Regions from separate parts of the Homo sapiens genome. Here region 1 is linked to region 2. The links come from fine-mapping of genetic effects on gene expression. Tissue or cell type: spinal cord. Region 2 holds a variant in brackets; the other region holds the start of a gene. All regions are shown on one strand. Distances are from middle to middle.

Region 1 (8,108 bases), 97 kb before region 2:
AGAGAGGATCGAGATGACACTTCTACTACAAGGTGTCCAAAGTGAGTTTAAATGTTACCTTAAGGCCTAGACTACCTAGCACTCAGAAGAAGGTAAAATGTGAACTGCATACATACTTGCAATTCTATATTTTAATATGGATCTTTTAGTAAGATATTTACTATTTGACAAGAAGTAATGAAAAATGTCTTATTCAGATAAATAAAATTTATGTAGCACAATAGCTGAGGCAAGGAGGTCAAAGAACCAAAGAAAATGAGTTTTGACTTAACAGGTTTGAGCCAAGAATGATCTACAGATTAATATTTTTCTCTGAATAGACAATGTAATGCTAGCACCATTTTCTCTGAGGAAACAGTATAATATTGAATCCTTGCTGAAAAACTAATGTTGAAGAGGACACTAAATCTTTGCAGTTTACACCTTGTTGAGGTTACAGTACAGTCAAAATATTCTAAGCAATCCTTATACAGAATTTGTGTAAAGTTATGATGGTCACAGGTTGGTAATAAAAATTTATCAGATATGAGGCTGAATTCTGGATTGCATCATCCCATTAGGAATAAAATTTAACTCTGATGAATTTTCCAAAATCTCACAGTTAGAATGTAAGTAAATGAAATAATATCTATACAAAACTACCTAGGATGTGTTTCTATTGTGTTTATGGCAAAATTTATCTGGCTTTTAATCTAATACAAAGCAAAGAAGAGGGAGTCTTAGGGTTGACATAAAAAGATTTTCCTACATAGGAATTTTGAGTACATTTAAATGAAAAGTTTATATACAAAATCCTGGAGACAAATACGTATTTAGCAATCACTCCCACCTTTGCTGTAGCTTTTACCCTCAGTGTTAACAAATAACAAAAATAACAAATGGCATTATTTGTTTTCTTATTCTAAGCCCTGCTGAAATTTTTAAAATGGCTTTTTTTTTTCACTGTGTGTGTAACCATGAGCTGAAGAAATGAATTCTTACAGGCAGAAAACTTGAGACTTTATCTTTCTACCAGGCAACTGGAATTGCTAACACGTCAATGTTTTACTGCATAAAGTAAATGGTCTGATGGTCTTACAAGCACAAAGCTCATTAGTGATCATTCGTCATTGTGTAAGTCTACTGTCCCTTGTCCAAAAAGAAAATTGGTGACTGAATCATTGCAACTATTGTGATATAGAAGTGAGGGCTTGGCTACTTACTAAGATTTAAAAGTCCCCTTTATAATTGAATTTAGTCTCTTCTATAACAGTATTTGCTCTCCTTGTTTGTATATTTTGTGTCAGATCCATGAGTGAGAACACAACCTCTTAAAATATATTCATTTTTAAAAGAATCAACATTTTTTATCTCTATTCTTTATAAAATATATCCAAGTCAATCAATCTGACAAGGTTAGGTAGTATGGTTCAGATTTTAAATGAATTATGATATTGACCAAGGTTATTTTGAGTTCTGAGAAAGAAAAAAAAGTTTTACGAACTGAGGAAGATCATGGCCCTTTATAAAAAATAGCATGATTCAAATATTTTCCGTACCTTTTAATAGCTTGTTAGGTTGAAAAAAACCATTCTAAATGGTAAAAACAAAATATAAAATATTATTTTTATGACCATATTAAACAGAATATTAAATGAGAATAGTAGAGGGCTATAATTATTTTCAATAAACAACATATTTTGATATGCAGCAGCTTTCTTATTCTTTCTGCAGTGTTTACAAACTGTGCACCTTTTGAAAGAAATAAAGTGAAACTAGTTACAGGGCTGCATGTGGCACAGCATGGGGCGGTCACCAGCATGACGCAGTACTTGCATTTTGGAACTAAGTTACCGGAGACCTGTGTTTGGTTCTGGCTCCAGCCCTGGTCCTTGTTAACCTTGTAACCCGGGATCTCCACTTAACCCCAGATGCTCATCATAATGCCGTTATAAAGACCAAATGAGTCCACGTACAGTAGATGAAGAGTTAAACAAAGATAAAATGTCAATGTCTGAAAGATAAAACTGATGGCTCACATAGAACACTGTAAGTTTCAGATTGCCAAAGTCAAGGGGTTCAGAACATGAATGGCCTCTCCCCAGACTGGTTTGGTAAACTATCTGATATACACGGTGAATCATTTTAAAATTGCCCTTCGGGACTGAAATTGGGCATCACTTGATATCATTTCCCATGGGATATTTTTCCAATGAACGCTCACAGTTCTTGCTATGTTGCAAATGTTTAAAAACTCTACTAAGACTGTATAATGAAATATGTGTTGTTAGTGCAACTGTATTAAATATTAAACATATAATTCTAAGTTGATGTTTTTCAGAATTATTTTCAACGACCAAGAAGAATATAAAAAAGAAACAAATCACCCTTTAAACAGAACCACTTTAGTGCAAAGTAAGAAAGAATATCAGCTCCTGCTAACACAAAGAAGGTTTGAATGAGAGATGACTGCAGATGGTGGCCTGGGGATTCCTATGAGGACACACCCTAGCTTTTCCCTTTTATAACAAGGTTCATGAAATCTCTTTATTAGTGCTGTGGACTCATAACATGTGATTGTCTTCCTGTGAGGAATTAGTTATTAAATGAAAGAATTAGGTTTCAAAACAGGGAATCACTCAATTGGGAATATCATCACCCCCAAATTTATTTATGCAGATTAAAAACCATCACTAGATGGTATTCATTGGCACTTATTTAAATCTCAAAGTCACAACTTTATGCATGTATTACCGGACACGTTGAGATGCTGCCTATCACATTAATTAGCAGATACATAGCTTGTAATACTAGGACAGCTTCCCATTCCCCCACCTCTTTGTTTTTACTCTGTTTCCACCCACTCAATAGCCCAGGGAGCCAAGATTTGTTTCATGACTGTTCAGTCCAGTGATTTATTATAAAATCATTTTTGTTCAAGTACTACTGAGTTGAAACCAATTTATTTTTAGGTTTTAAATCAATAGAAAATTATTTTAAAATATATATAACTAGTGAACATAAAGAATCCCCAAAGGACAAAGACCAACATTTGCTTTGTCACTCTGAAGCCACACGCTGCACACTCACAGATGCCAAGGAAGGGAGGACTGCATGGAGCCGGCGGCGTCTGAACGTACCTGTCATGGTAAATCCACCAACCAATAAACCAATATCTCGGCCACCAACTATGATGGCTTCGCTGCGCTCTTCTGCGCTGCCACTGTTTTTGGTTCTCCAGGCAGCCCATATTCCAACCAGCAAAATTAGAAGGTAGAACACGATGATAGCTATCAGTCCTTCCACATGGAAAGCCATTTTTATCTAATGATCCAGATTCTTCTGCAGCTGGCTACTTCATTAAGTCTTCTGAAGAAAATACAGGGATGCATTATAAACCAGTCAAGCACTATGCACATGTAGGCAGCCAGGAATAAACCAGCTGGCTCATGCGAGATCCTGTGCCACTCACAGAAAGAGTACAACCCTGAAACCACACGTGAAACGGGCAGTTAACAATAAGTGTCCACTACATTATCCTACTTCTATTTAACAATTTAACATTATTTTGAGTTTGCAAGAAACAGAAAAAAAAACGGAAATGTAGTTTAACAAATGGAATCATAATCCTTGTGTGTTTCATACATGCTTTAAATTTAAAATTAACCTTGTCGTGTATATCTTAACTCAGTAACTGTCAAATCATTTACAAAGAGTAGCGCTGTATCTGCGTTTTGGAACTAAGTTACTCTTCTAGAATTATTTATTCTAGAAGTGTTAAGTGTTTCATAAATGACCATTCTGAAAATTTTAAAATATTCATTAATTTATTCATTCTTTTATCTGTCCTTTCAAACAACTTCAGAGAATGGCTTCAGTAGTAATCTGATATAAAAATATCTGAAAAAAATCTTTAGAAAAATCCATTTCAAAAACACATCAAACTCCACATTTTCAACAAGCTTCTGTAGTTCAAGTTACTATAGCAACTAAGTATGTTTTTTGTTGTTGAAAGGATCCATTCTCTTGATCTTCTTCGCCCAATATCCTTCATTCAATTCATCACCCCCCATTAATGGTACATACAGGAAAAGGTTTTGTTGTTGTTGTTGCTGTTGTTTTAAACACAATTGCCTAAAAGCACATCAGAAGCCTCAAAGATATTAAAATCAAGACTCTTAGAAGACAGATGTCAAGTTCGAAAGCATTCACCTTCTGAAATTCTTGTCCCCTTTTATTTTTATTTTTATTTATTTTTTACCTTTGTGACCACAGCTGTTCCATGAACCCAAACTCTCACATACAAGTTTCTGGGGGAAACTCTGACATTTGTGCGTGCAGGTGGGTGAAGAGACGTTGGGGGAAAGAATCAGCCTCTCTGGAATTTAAAGGAGGCAAAAGAAGCGCCCGCGGGCTGTGTCTTCTCTGCCTTTGTGAGCAACCAAGCAGGCAAGTTCCTCTCCGCAGCAGCCCGATGCTCTCCCGGCCCCCTGCGGCCTTTCCTCGGCCCCCTCTACCCATTTCCTGCGCCCAGACTTTGTAGCCTCTTGCACCCTGACAGCAACGGTGCCAGACAGCAAACCCGCCCTCGCATCCCACCGAGAGGGAAAAACGCCGCGTCCCTCCCCTCTAAAACCGCCCGGGCTCGGTGCCCAAGGCGTTTCCGAGGGTGCGGGCCCGTAGGCGCAGGAATGCCCGCTCCGCTCCTACCTGGAGTGGTGGCTGCACGCGAAAGCGCTCCGCCCGGGGCCGCCGCCCCCTGGAACCGCGAGGGGTGTGGGTGCGAGGGTGCAGAAAGGGAGGGTGCGGGGTGGGTCGGGGTGCAGTGCGGAGCGGGGCCGGGCGGTCAGGGCGGCTCCTCACTCGGCGTCTCCAAGAACCTGGGAGCGCGCAGAGTTGACAGGTGTTGGCGCCGGCGGAGGGCGCGCGGCGCAGGGCGAGGTGGGAATCGATCGAGTATTGGGAAAAGTCCCCTTTATAAGGGCGGCAGGCGGGGGCGATCGTCAGACATCCGGAGGCGGACGTCAGAGGAGAGTGGTGCTAGGGCGTGTGCTAGGGACGCTGCCCTCGCGAGGAGGGTGGGTGTGCGGGATGCGAAGGAAACGGGGCCCAAGGAGCTGGGGGGCAGGCTGGGCTCTGGTCCGCGCTGCCAGCCATGGTATCCCCATCCTGAGACAAGTACCTGCTACTCCCATCTCCTCCTCCAGAAAACTGGGCGGAGATTCCTTAGGGTGATTCCCAGTCGAACTTCTCATCCCTCTGGTTGGAAGCTGGGAATGGGGAGGGTCTCAGAGGATTATATTTTCAGAAGCAGCAGCTGGAAGCCTAGAGGAGAGAAGTGTCCTGTTCTTTTCTTCCCAGGTCAGAGTCTGGAATTGTTTCCTGACGAGTCTCTCTGAGAGGGAAGGGGTCCTCTCCCGCGGCCTCCCCTGGGCCCTGTTGGAAGCTGTTCCTGGCGTCCCTGGTGATGGGCTCCCTGAAGGAGACATTTCAGGAAGGTTTAGAAAGTCCTTTTTACATTCATACCCCTGCCACTTAAAAGTAGGGCTACCATGAAGGACACTAGGCGTGGTCCAGATTAACAATGAGGTTATCACAGAAGTCAGACAAGATGGCTTTCCTGGTAGAGCCCTTTGGGCAGCTGGCCTGCTGAATATCCTATTCCAGCTTACAAAAATTTGCTGTGTTAGTTTACAATATATCCATATACCTACCTATTTTTATAGATTATTTATATATTACACATATAAATATGTATCTATAGATGTATTTCTACATCTAGGTGTACATGGATAGATGCAGATACCTGTGTGAATGTGAATGGAGGAAGAGAGAAGGGTGGGAGAGAATAAGATAGAAGAGTCACAAGCCACAAAGCTACAAGCACTCTGGCCACTTTCTCACTTCTTTCCGCATTCCACCATGAGAGTGTATTTAACAGTGAAATACACAAGTCTAATAAGGGATAGAATAAATAAGAGTGCCTCTGAACTACTGTTCACCTCTCTAGGCCAATCAGACCATCTCCCCTTTTCTTACACTGGATTTTGAAATTAACTTCCAAATTTATGTTACTACCCCTTTTCTTTCTTCTCTGTATAAACAATAACTGCATCCAACTACCTCTTTTGAGGTGAGAAAGCCTAGGGAGTTCAAACAGAAATTAAGACGGGCCAAAAGGCCTGCAAAGATAGTTATTTCCCCTGGGTAATATGACTAGTTCATTGATTTTCTGGAAAAGACTTAGGTTGCCTTTTAATATAACCCCATTTTTACATACACATTTTATTAATTTAAGCAATTTTAAGGAACTGACAGAGCGAAACAGAGATGGGATTTCATATAATTACCCATGTGTTTTAAAAGAGGTTCATTCATTCATTCATCCATCCATTCATTCATTGTTTTTGTCTTCTATAACTCATTTTCTGATTCTGGGCCTTAGCCTCAGGTTAACTGATGTATTTCCTGCCAGAATATACTAATGATGATGATGACACACAGCTTATTGCTGTAGCAGGGCAGGCATGGGCAATTGCAGTGTCTGAAATAGTGCACAGGCCTAAGGTCAGGGAGCTTGACTCAGATCCAAAGAGAGACTGAAGAGGCAGCCGTCCTCAGAGAACATCACCAGCCTTTCGGTATGAGAATTGGGAGTGCAGCCAAAGCACACCTCCCAGAGCCCACCTAATCCACTTTGACAAGCCAGGCTTGCCAGACTATGGACTCAGTGCCAGATCTGAGAATGGACAATGACCTTGACAGTGGCCAAATTCTTGCCTGGCAGAGCGGCTGTCCTCCATGACAAGAAACACCAGTTGAAAATGACAACTGCTGATGAATTGAGTCTAGTTCTGGGGAGACATTTCCTCATTTGCTGAGTCCTTTGCGCTCCGTGTCTGATCTAAGGATGAAGCTGCATGTGAATTTCTGTGCCAAGGTGTAATTTCCCAGACACCCATTTCTCTTTTGTCTTTAATATTGGTACTTTAATGTGTACCTCTTCCTCCACTCTCCTGAGAATATGTTATCATGCACGGACTTAGGGAACTACATGTCAGTGGGAGATCAATTCCCGCTTTTGGGGAGAAAAAGCAGGTTTTGCATTTATAAATCATTTATTTTTTAAAAACACATTTTCTAAGTGCCTTTTACATTCTGAACACTGTTCTCAGTACTGAGAATACATGTAGAAAATTATACAAACCTTGCCCTCAAGTAACTTATCCATGAAAAGAAAGAAGGAACAAACAAGCAAAAGCTGCACTTCTATATACTATTGTAAGTGCTGAGAAGGATGTAGCATATCTGTACACACAGATTCTAGGGAAAGTTCAAACAAAAGGTCTTAATCAGATGGAGGAATTCTTCTCGGAGGAGCGGGGAGAGTCATTTATTCAATAAATATATAAAAACACCTGGCCGGGCACGGTGGCTCACGCCTGTAATCCCAGCAATTTGGGAGGCCGAGGTGGGCGGTTTATTTGAGGTCAAGAGTTCGAGACCAGGTTGGCTAACATGGTGAAACCCCGTCTCTACTGAAAATACAAAAATTAGCCGGGCATGGTGGCACATGTCTGTAATCCCAGCTACTCGGGAGGCTGAGGCAGGAGAATTCCTTGAGCCCTGGAGGTGGAGGTTGCAGTGAGCCGAGATTGTGCCACTGCACTCCAGTCTGGCTGACAGAGAGAGACTCTGTCTCAACGAACAACAACAACAACAACAAAACACCTGCTGCTTTGTGCTAGGTATATACTCAATTGATTGAAATGAAAAGATCCCTGTCTTTAATAGGTTAACACCCTCTGACCTTGCCATTCAAAGTACACTTCATGGAACAGCAGCGTCAGCATTACATTTTTCTTTTTTAATAACAGCTTTGGTAATTTGAGAATGTCATCACTTGGTCTATACATTTTGAACATGCTTCAAATATGATCCAAATGCATATTGAGACTGTGGGGGCCCATTTTGCTGAAGTTATTATCCTTCCTAATGCTCCAGTTTCCCCATACAATGTCAACTCAAATCTTTCATACTTTTTAATGGATTACATTTAGCTTAAATTAAAATTGGCCAGTCATTTCCAAACCAGGGTGACTATCGGAATTGTAGAGTTCTTGAAAAAT
Region 2 (8,108 bases):
ATGACAGGTGTGAACCATCGCACCCAGACTATTTATAGGAATTTTCTGTAGGTATATAAGTAATAATTTGAAGGTCACAACTAGATGCCTTTTCGTGTAACCGTATCTTGAATGGAACAAACATTTTCTTTCTACGTAATTATACATAAATAACTCAATGCTTTTTAATACCCATGAAAAGCCATTAGCTCAAAGACACTTGCAAACTTGTATCAGGTTGTTTTCCTTGGTGTGTATTAAGTTTGAAGCAAAGGGGATTTTCACATACCAAGACGAAGCAGAAGTCTTCCACCAAGTTGAAATCATCACGTTGCAATTTAATCATGTGATACAACCAATTTTTTGATGTGTTATGCCATTCGCCAAATACCAAAAATTTTTTAGGGGAAACTTTACATCCTCAATACTATACACTTCCAGCTACACCACCACCTAACAGGGACTTTAAAAAGAATACAAAGTACGGTATGCCTTCTCAGTGCCTTGTTAGTAATTCAGTTACAGTTCTGCTGAACTTTCTTTAAAGGAATACAATTCTCAATCTTACACTGTTCAGAGCACAAGCATAGCTTATTGTATACAAGAGATGTGCATCAGTTCCCACTCCTCAGGGACTGTATGAATTTGGCTTTATTTTTATTTATTTTTTTGACGGAGTCTCACTCTGTCACCAGGCTGGAGTGCAGTAGTGTGATCTCAGCTCACTGGACTCTGCCACCCGGGTTCAAGTGATTCTCCTGCCTCAGCCTCCCAAGTAGCTGGGACTACAGGTGCACACCACCATGCCCAGCTGATTTTTTGTGTGTTTTTAGTAGAGACGGGGTTTCACCATGTTGGCCAGGATGGTCTCGATCTCTTGACCTCATGATCTACCCGCTTTGGCCTCCCAAGGTGCTGGGATTACAGGCATGAGCCACTGTGCTGGGCCAAATTTGGTTCTTAGAAACCAAGGAGTGATGTGTGCACCAGGCCCAGGGCTGAAGAGCTGCTTCTCACTAGATGCCTCTCTTGGTCTGGCTGCTGTGTCCAGTCCTATCCAGGGTTAGCTCTGTTCCTCCTTCTTGCGGCATCTGTGTTTCTCTTTCTGCTCTGCCTCTCCCCATCTCCTAGTCCAAACATCCAAAGAAATTAATTACCTCCAGGAGATCGAGACCATCCTGGCTAACACGGTGAAACCCCGTCTCTACTAAAAATACAAAAAATTAGCCGGGCATGGTGGCGGGCGCCTGTAGTCCCAGCTACTTAGGAGGCTGAGGCAGGAGAATGGCGTGAACCTGGGAGGCAGAGCTTGCAGTGACCCGAAATCGCGCCATTGCACTCACGCCTGGGCGACAGAGCAAGACTCTGTCTCAAAAAAAAAAAAAAAAAAATTAATGACCTCTGCCCCTAACTGAACAAAGCCCTTCATCTAAGGCCACCCTTTGGTTGGCAGCCTTAGCCAGACATCTGCTTCTGGTCAAATCAATGTCTTGTCCACAGGGAGGCCCAGCGCTGTTTCTGGTTTTAGCTGGATGCAGGGTGTCAGACATGGCAGGTACTACGGTCTACGTGGCGGGTATCAAAGAGTTGGTCGACGTTCTCACAACAACCTAATAGGGACCAACCATGGAAGGCCAGTAGTAAAGGAGTTTGAAGTTCCCTTTCAGAAACCAATTAACAACCCCAAAGAGACAGTGTGTAACATAAAAGAGCTGCCATAAAAATATACAGTTAAACATATTTAATAGAAATATTAAAATAATCATTACACTTCCTCTCATTGCAGAAACCATGAAAGAATATGCCTTTTGTAATCAATTTTTTATCATGCAAAAAAGTATTTTGTTATGACATTTGTAAGTGGAGACTATATTTCAAAACAAGTTTATACAGACTTCAAAAGGTCTCAAGTCAAAGAGAAAGTGAAATATATTTAAATATGATTAGTTACATCTAATGCAGCTGGCATACTCATATTCACAGTTTATAAAGTAAAAAAACTAAACTCTTCATGTCGGCTCTGAAATAGATGCATTTTCATTCATACATTCGCTAGTTAGGTCTGTTCTTCTAAGGAGGAAAGACGAGACATATGAGATATTTTTTAAAGAACAAACTCAACATATCAGCAGCAAATTTCAGTTAAACTAAATTGGAAACCAATGTTCTGTGTAACCAAAGTGCAAAGTCAGTTCCCCAGCTCAGAAAGAAAATTAAGAGTATAAACTGAAGGCTTAAGAGAACTTCAGAGAGCATACTATGTGATTAATACATAAATATTAAAAATTATCCAATTTTTGATTTAAGAACAACACAGTTTGGATCTAGTCATTAAAACATATGCAGAGGTGTCAAAGGCAAGTAACACTACCACCTAAGGTTATTCAGAGGAACTGTGAAGATGTAGCACGGACCTCTAAGGTGTCTAAAATCCCTTCTGATGGAAAGCTTATGGAACACTATCTGCCAAAAACACTGAAAGCACCACTTTTATATTTAGATCCAATGCTGAGTGATATAGTCACTGTTGGGATAGGTTTTTATTTGGGAAAATGGAGAGGATTCTCAAAACAGATTCATGGCTTGCATGCAGTGACACCCTATCAAGAGCCTGGAAAGACACCATGAAATCACCTCAACTCAAGTGGTGGGCCCACCTACTCATAGTCAGTGTTACATTAGCCAGCTCTAGGGCTCTGACAACATAATGAGTTTTGAGATAGTATACTTTAAAGAAAAAAAGAAGAGTTTATTTTAAAGCAAATAACTAAACTGTATTTTAACTTAGCACAATTAACTGCAGCATATTTACTTCATAGCCCCTTAACATGTCACTTTTACCAACAAAGCTTTTTCCTTCATATTCTAATCACAAAAATTTCTCAACAATTTATAACAATCTGTAAATCTGACCTTGCAATAAATAGTCATAAAATGTTATTTTTATTACTATTATTATTTTTAGAGACAAGGTCTCGCTCTGTTCCCCGAGCTGGAGTGCAGTGGTACAATCACAGCTCACTAGCCTCAAACGATTCTCCAGCCTCAGCCTCCCAAAGTAGTGGGATTTCAGGCATGAATCACCACACCTGGCCTTGAAACATTATTTTTAAAGCCTAAATTCCAGTTGGTATGGTACCAAAATTTAGTTTAACTTCAAAATTCACAGTACTGCCGAGAAATGGGCGGGTCCTGAGGTTCCAGAGAAGTGGGGAGTGAATTCATTCCTGGTGGTTTTATTCTGGCAGCATGCATGGGAGATCACATGAGTTAGAGGGCTGTGGCCTGGTATCAATACTTCAAGCTGTTGTACTTTTACTTCAAGTTGAAACTTTTAAAATACATCTGTCATATAGATGTACAAATATATGTAAATGCAAACATATACACACTTTTTGACAAAAGAATGATGGTAATACACATGAACCATTTTTGTAAATAGATTTTATTTGGTTAATAAAAATATTCCTTCCATCAACCTATCGAAGTCCAAACCAACTACGAAGATAGGATGCCCATCCAGAAGAACGGGAAGCATTTTATTCCTCACCTTTGGAAAGTAAAACAAAAAAAAAAGAAAAAAGAGAGTATTAAAATTTCTCAATGTAAAATCTATATTTTAGAACCACTCTACAATATAAGCAAATAATGTCTTTTTTACTGATCACATGCCTTTTTTGTTGGGGGGGGGGGGTTCTTTTTTTTTTTTTTTTTTTTTTTTTGAGACAGGGTCTTGCTCTGTCACCCAGGCTGGAGTGCAGTGGCGTGATGAGACTTCAGTGCAGCCTTGATCTCCCAGGCTCAAGTGATTCTCCCACCTCAGCCTCCCAAGCAACTGGGACCACAAGGTGTGTGCCACCATGCCTGGGTAATTTTTTGTTTTTTTGTAGAGATGCAGGTCTCACTGTTTTCCAGGCTGGTCTCAAATTCCTGGGCTCAAGTGATCCTCCCACTTCAGCCTTACAGTGTTGGGATTACAGTCACGAGCCACTGTACCCAACCATATGTCATTCTTTAGACACACTGCTTACTAAATTTCTCTTTTTAAAGGATATACTGAATTTCCGGTTGAGCCAACTTAACAGCTAATTTTCTATTTTAGCTTTAAAACATTGATAAGCAACATGAAGCAATCTAGAACTTAACCTTTAAATGGCTTTATTAAAGCAATCCAGCTATGAAAATTATGCAGAAATGATTATCTACAATCTTACCAGCACATAAGAAATTCTTCCTCTATTCTGAAATACCATCTTCTCACAATATACTTTGATGTTATGAATCAATGTCTGTTCTTGAACATTATTTATTGTCTTTCTCTATTAAACAATTCCAAAATAAAATTTCCAGCACAACTAAATATTGTTGATGATAAGAGGATTTTAAAAAAAATTCTTTTAAAACAGAAGCTTATATACAACTTAGAATCTAAAACCAATAGATTTATGGTAAACCTTAAAACTGAACCAAAACAAACAAAAACCAAAGTTTTAATCATTTAAAAATCATGTTTATTGAGGTACAACTTACTTATAGTAAAACCTGCCCTTTTCAGCGTATAGCACTGAGTCTTGACAAATGCACAGTTACGTACCACCACCGA[C/A]CAAGGCCTGGCACATTTTCACCTCCTCAAAGTTCTCCCTGGCTGCTTCTCCCACTCCTTGGCAACCGCTAACCTGTTTTCTGTCCTTATAGTTCTGCTTTTTTCAGTGTCATATAAGTAGAATCACACTGTACATAGTATTTTGAGTCTGACCTCTGTCAACTGGCATAATGCATTTGAGAATTATCCATGTTGCTGTACTGGCAGTGCATTCTTTTTTATTGCTGAGCAGTATTCAATTGCATGGCTGTACCAGTTTGTTTATTCATTTGCCAGTTGAAGGATAACTGAGATCTTCCTCGTTTTTAGCAATTTTAAAGAAAGTTTCTACGAATAATTGTGTACAGGTTTTTAATTAAATGTTTTGGAGATATAATTCATATACCACATAATTCACCTTTTTAAAGTGCATAATTCACTGGTTTTTAATATATTCACAAGGTTTGTGCATAGGATTTTGTGTGAATACTGGTTTTCATTCCTCTTGGATAAAGATTTAATTTGGCATTACCCTTCCAGACACCATTCTGTGTTTTCATACGTATATATGTATGACAGTTTGACCTTACGCAGAGTAGCATTTTCAAAATTTTACATGGGGAAACTTTCTAGAGTTAAAGTCATTTTATTTTTCTGTTCTGTCTGGTTTTATCTGCGTGTTATTTACAATCTGCTGCGTAACAAATTACTACAAACTTAGTACCTTAACACATATTTATTTCACAGTTTCTGTGGGTCAGGAGATCAGAAATGGTTCTATTTCAAGGTCTCTCACAGGGCTGCAATCAAGATGTTGGCATGGCTGGGGTCTCATCTGAAGGCTGGACTGGAGAATCTACTTCCAAACTTATGTGGTAGTTGGAAGAGTTTAGTTCCTCAAGGCTGCTAAACTGATGGCCTGTGTTCCTTGCCTCTGGGATGGTAGCTTGCTTCAACAAAGTGTGCAAGCAGAGAAGACAGAGAGAGTCCACTAGCAAGATAGAAGCCACAATCTCTTGTAATCTATCATTTTTGCTGTATTCTACTGGTTAAAAATAACTCATTAGGTTAGCCTACTGGCTCTGAAGGGGAAGAGATTATACAAAGGCATGAATTTCTGGAGGAGGGAATGAGGGCAAAGAACTCTGAAAAGTCTCTCTTCCACAATCTGAAGAACTTCTAGAAAGTAGAAGGAAGCGATATTGCTTAGGGATGGACAACTTGGCACTGGTTATGTGTTCCAAGTGAGGTAACCTTGTTCCCAGGAATAAAGAGAACCAGATGACTGTAAACATTTCCCTAAACTGAAATGCACTGTTGTATGTTCACCTGCAATGAATGGTGTAAGCTGAATATAAGATTTTTGACAAAATAAAAATTTTGCTGTGTTCTCAGATCTGGCAGGCTCCTGCCCTTGTGCAAACAATGTTCCTGGTAACTATTCATCTCCTTAGGTAAATAAGAATTGGAGAAAAGCTGTGCTTAGATAGGGTGCATTTGCTCTTGCCTTGGAAGGTTGTTTTCTGATAAGGTTCTATATCCTCTGCAAATCAAATCAGGCACTTACAGTGTGAGTATGCATTCTCTTCCTGCCAGTCTGGAGATGATCAAAAAGCCTATAACAGGCTTGGCCTATTTTCCTATTGGGTTGCTGGGCTTTTTTTCTTTATTTACTTGTAGAGAGTTTTAGACCTCTGTGTATGTATGGTGTACAAGTGACAATATTCAGATCTGTAAACTGTAACCCAGTCTGGGAGCAAAGAAGATATAGAAAAATGACTTTTACTTCCGGCTTGAGTAGTAAAATTGAGATTCAAATTTTGCATATAGAAGTACTATATGGCTAACTTATTTGGGGAGCAAAGCTGACTTACCATAAGTCTATCTCAAATAGAAATGAAACACTCAATTTGTGAAATATGCTGAGTTTTAATGCGTGTGGGGGCAGGGTGAATTAACATTTGTGATGCAAGGAGAAGAGCAATCTATACTTACCACTGTCTATTTGACATTGTTTGGGGACTACTGCTACACTCTAAGTCATTTTACCTTATAACGCAGAGTTGTAACACGCTACTCTGAGCAGCTCATGACATCTGCTTGAAATTTAAGTTGGGCCCCTAGTATGTGTTTATTATAAAGATTTTGATGCTGCTTTTCAGAGTTGGGTAACCTACTTTACCCCCTAAGCTAATGTTTCCCAAATACACCCAAACCCACAGAAAGGAAAACTATTCATCATTAACTCACAGCCAACATCATAAACATTTTATATCTAGAGCTGATGATACAGTCAGGTATTTACCAACACTCATGTATATATGTAGAGTGTCAAGAAATAATTGCTTATCCTTACTAGATTCAACATTAGCCTTACTAGATTCAACATATTCTAATGTTTCACATATTATTTTTATTTCTTAATTTTTTTTAAAGATGGGGTTTTACTCTGTTGCCCAGGCTGAAATGCAGTGGCGTGACCAGGATTTCGACCAGAAGTTCGACTGCAGCCTCGAACTCCTTATAACAAAGAATCCTGCTGCCTTAGCCTCCCGAGTAGCTAGGACTATGGGCACATGCCACCAGAACTGGCATATTTTAAAATTTTTGTAGACATAGGGTCTCGCCATGTTGCCCAGGCTGATTCTGAACTCCTGTTCTCAAGCAATCCTCCTGCCTGGTCTTCTCAAACTGTTGGGCTTACAGGTGTGAGTCACTGAGCCCAGCTTGTATTCTTTTGATTTTAAAAAAATATTCTGAATGTGATCCACCAAATTAATTTCACCATCCACTAATAGGTAGCAACCTGAATGAAAAATACTATTATAAACTTTACACAAAACCAGAGATTATAAACATTTGCTTCCAAGGAGATGAGAGAGGTAAAAGGTACTTGTTTGCTCTGATGGGCCCTGTTTCCTTCAGTGCCAGGAAGAGTGGCTCTCAGACCTTTCTTCTAGCATCCCTCATGTATGCAGTGTTGGTTATTATTTTCAAGGCCTTGGTAACAAAATGCCCCCCTAGTGTGACCAGTCAGACTGACAGTCCATATCTGTAATATGGTGGTAAGTTTCCTTTGCATGTCTTTCTTTCTGGCATCTTAGACCTTTTACCTAGGAAATTTTCTTTTTGCTTGAAGTACATCATTAAGAATTTTCAGTGAAGGCAGATTCTTAAAGTTTTTGTTTTCCAGAAGAGATCTTGGAAAATATAAAAGGTTGGCAGTTATTTCTTTTAGTACATGAGATAGTATTACACCAATGCTGTTGAGAAGTCTATTGTGAGGCAATGTGTCTTCTTTCTCTGGCTGCTTTTGAGATTTCTGTCTGTCTTTTTTAGGGGCAGTTTTACTCTTATGTGACTAGAAGTAGATTTCTTCTTTTTTTTTTTAATACTGCTTGAGATTTTATTGGGTTTTTGAATCTGTGGATAGATATCCTTCAACAGTTCTGAAAGATTTCCAGCCATTCTCTTCATATATTATCTGTGCTGTATTCTTGTCTCTCCTTTTAGAACTTCGATTAGTAAAAACATGTTTGATGTCTTT

Direction of the effects. Alleles are on the strand shown, and positions count from the first base shown. SD is a standard deviation of normalised expression in the study named.
For the expression in spinal cord of the gene that starts at base 4,929 in region 1, allele A in region 2 goes with a lower level than allele C (large effect, 0.85 SD a copy in GTEx).

The links. PIP is the estimated chance that this variant, and not a neighbour inherited with it, causes the effect.
Region 1: SLC5A7 starts here. The variant in region 2 is fine-mapped to the expression of SLC5A7 in spinal cord (GTEx, PIP above 0.99).

What each region holds. Positions count from the first base shown.
Region 1 is chr2:107,983,345-107,991,452 of GRCh38, reverse strand. SLC5A7 (solute carrier family 5 member 7) reads right to left here and starts at 4,929. Exons shown (of 9, transcript NM_021815.5): 1 at 4,690-4,929; 2 at 3,120-3,348. The coding sequence starts at 3,297.
Region 2 is chr2:107,886,142-107,894,249 of GRCh38, reverse strand. It overlaps RGPD4 (RANBP2 like and GRIP domain containing 4), which reads right to left. Exons shown (of 23, transcript NM_182588.3): 23 at 1,706-3,529. The coding sequence ends at 3,519. All of the region lies in intron 1 of LOC124906057 (a long non-coding RNA gene), which reads left to right. Among named protein-coding and RNA genes, the nearest start is that of RGPD4, 63 kb to the right of the region's middle. The variant C/A (reference allele first, on the strand shown) is at 4,583.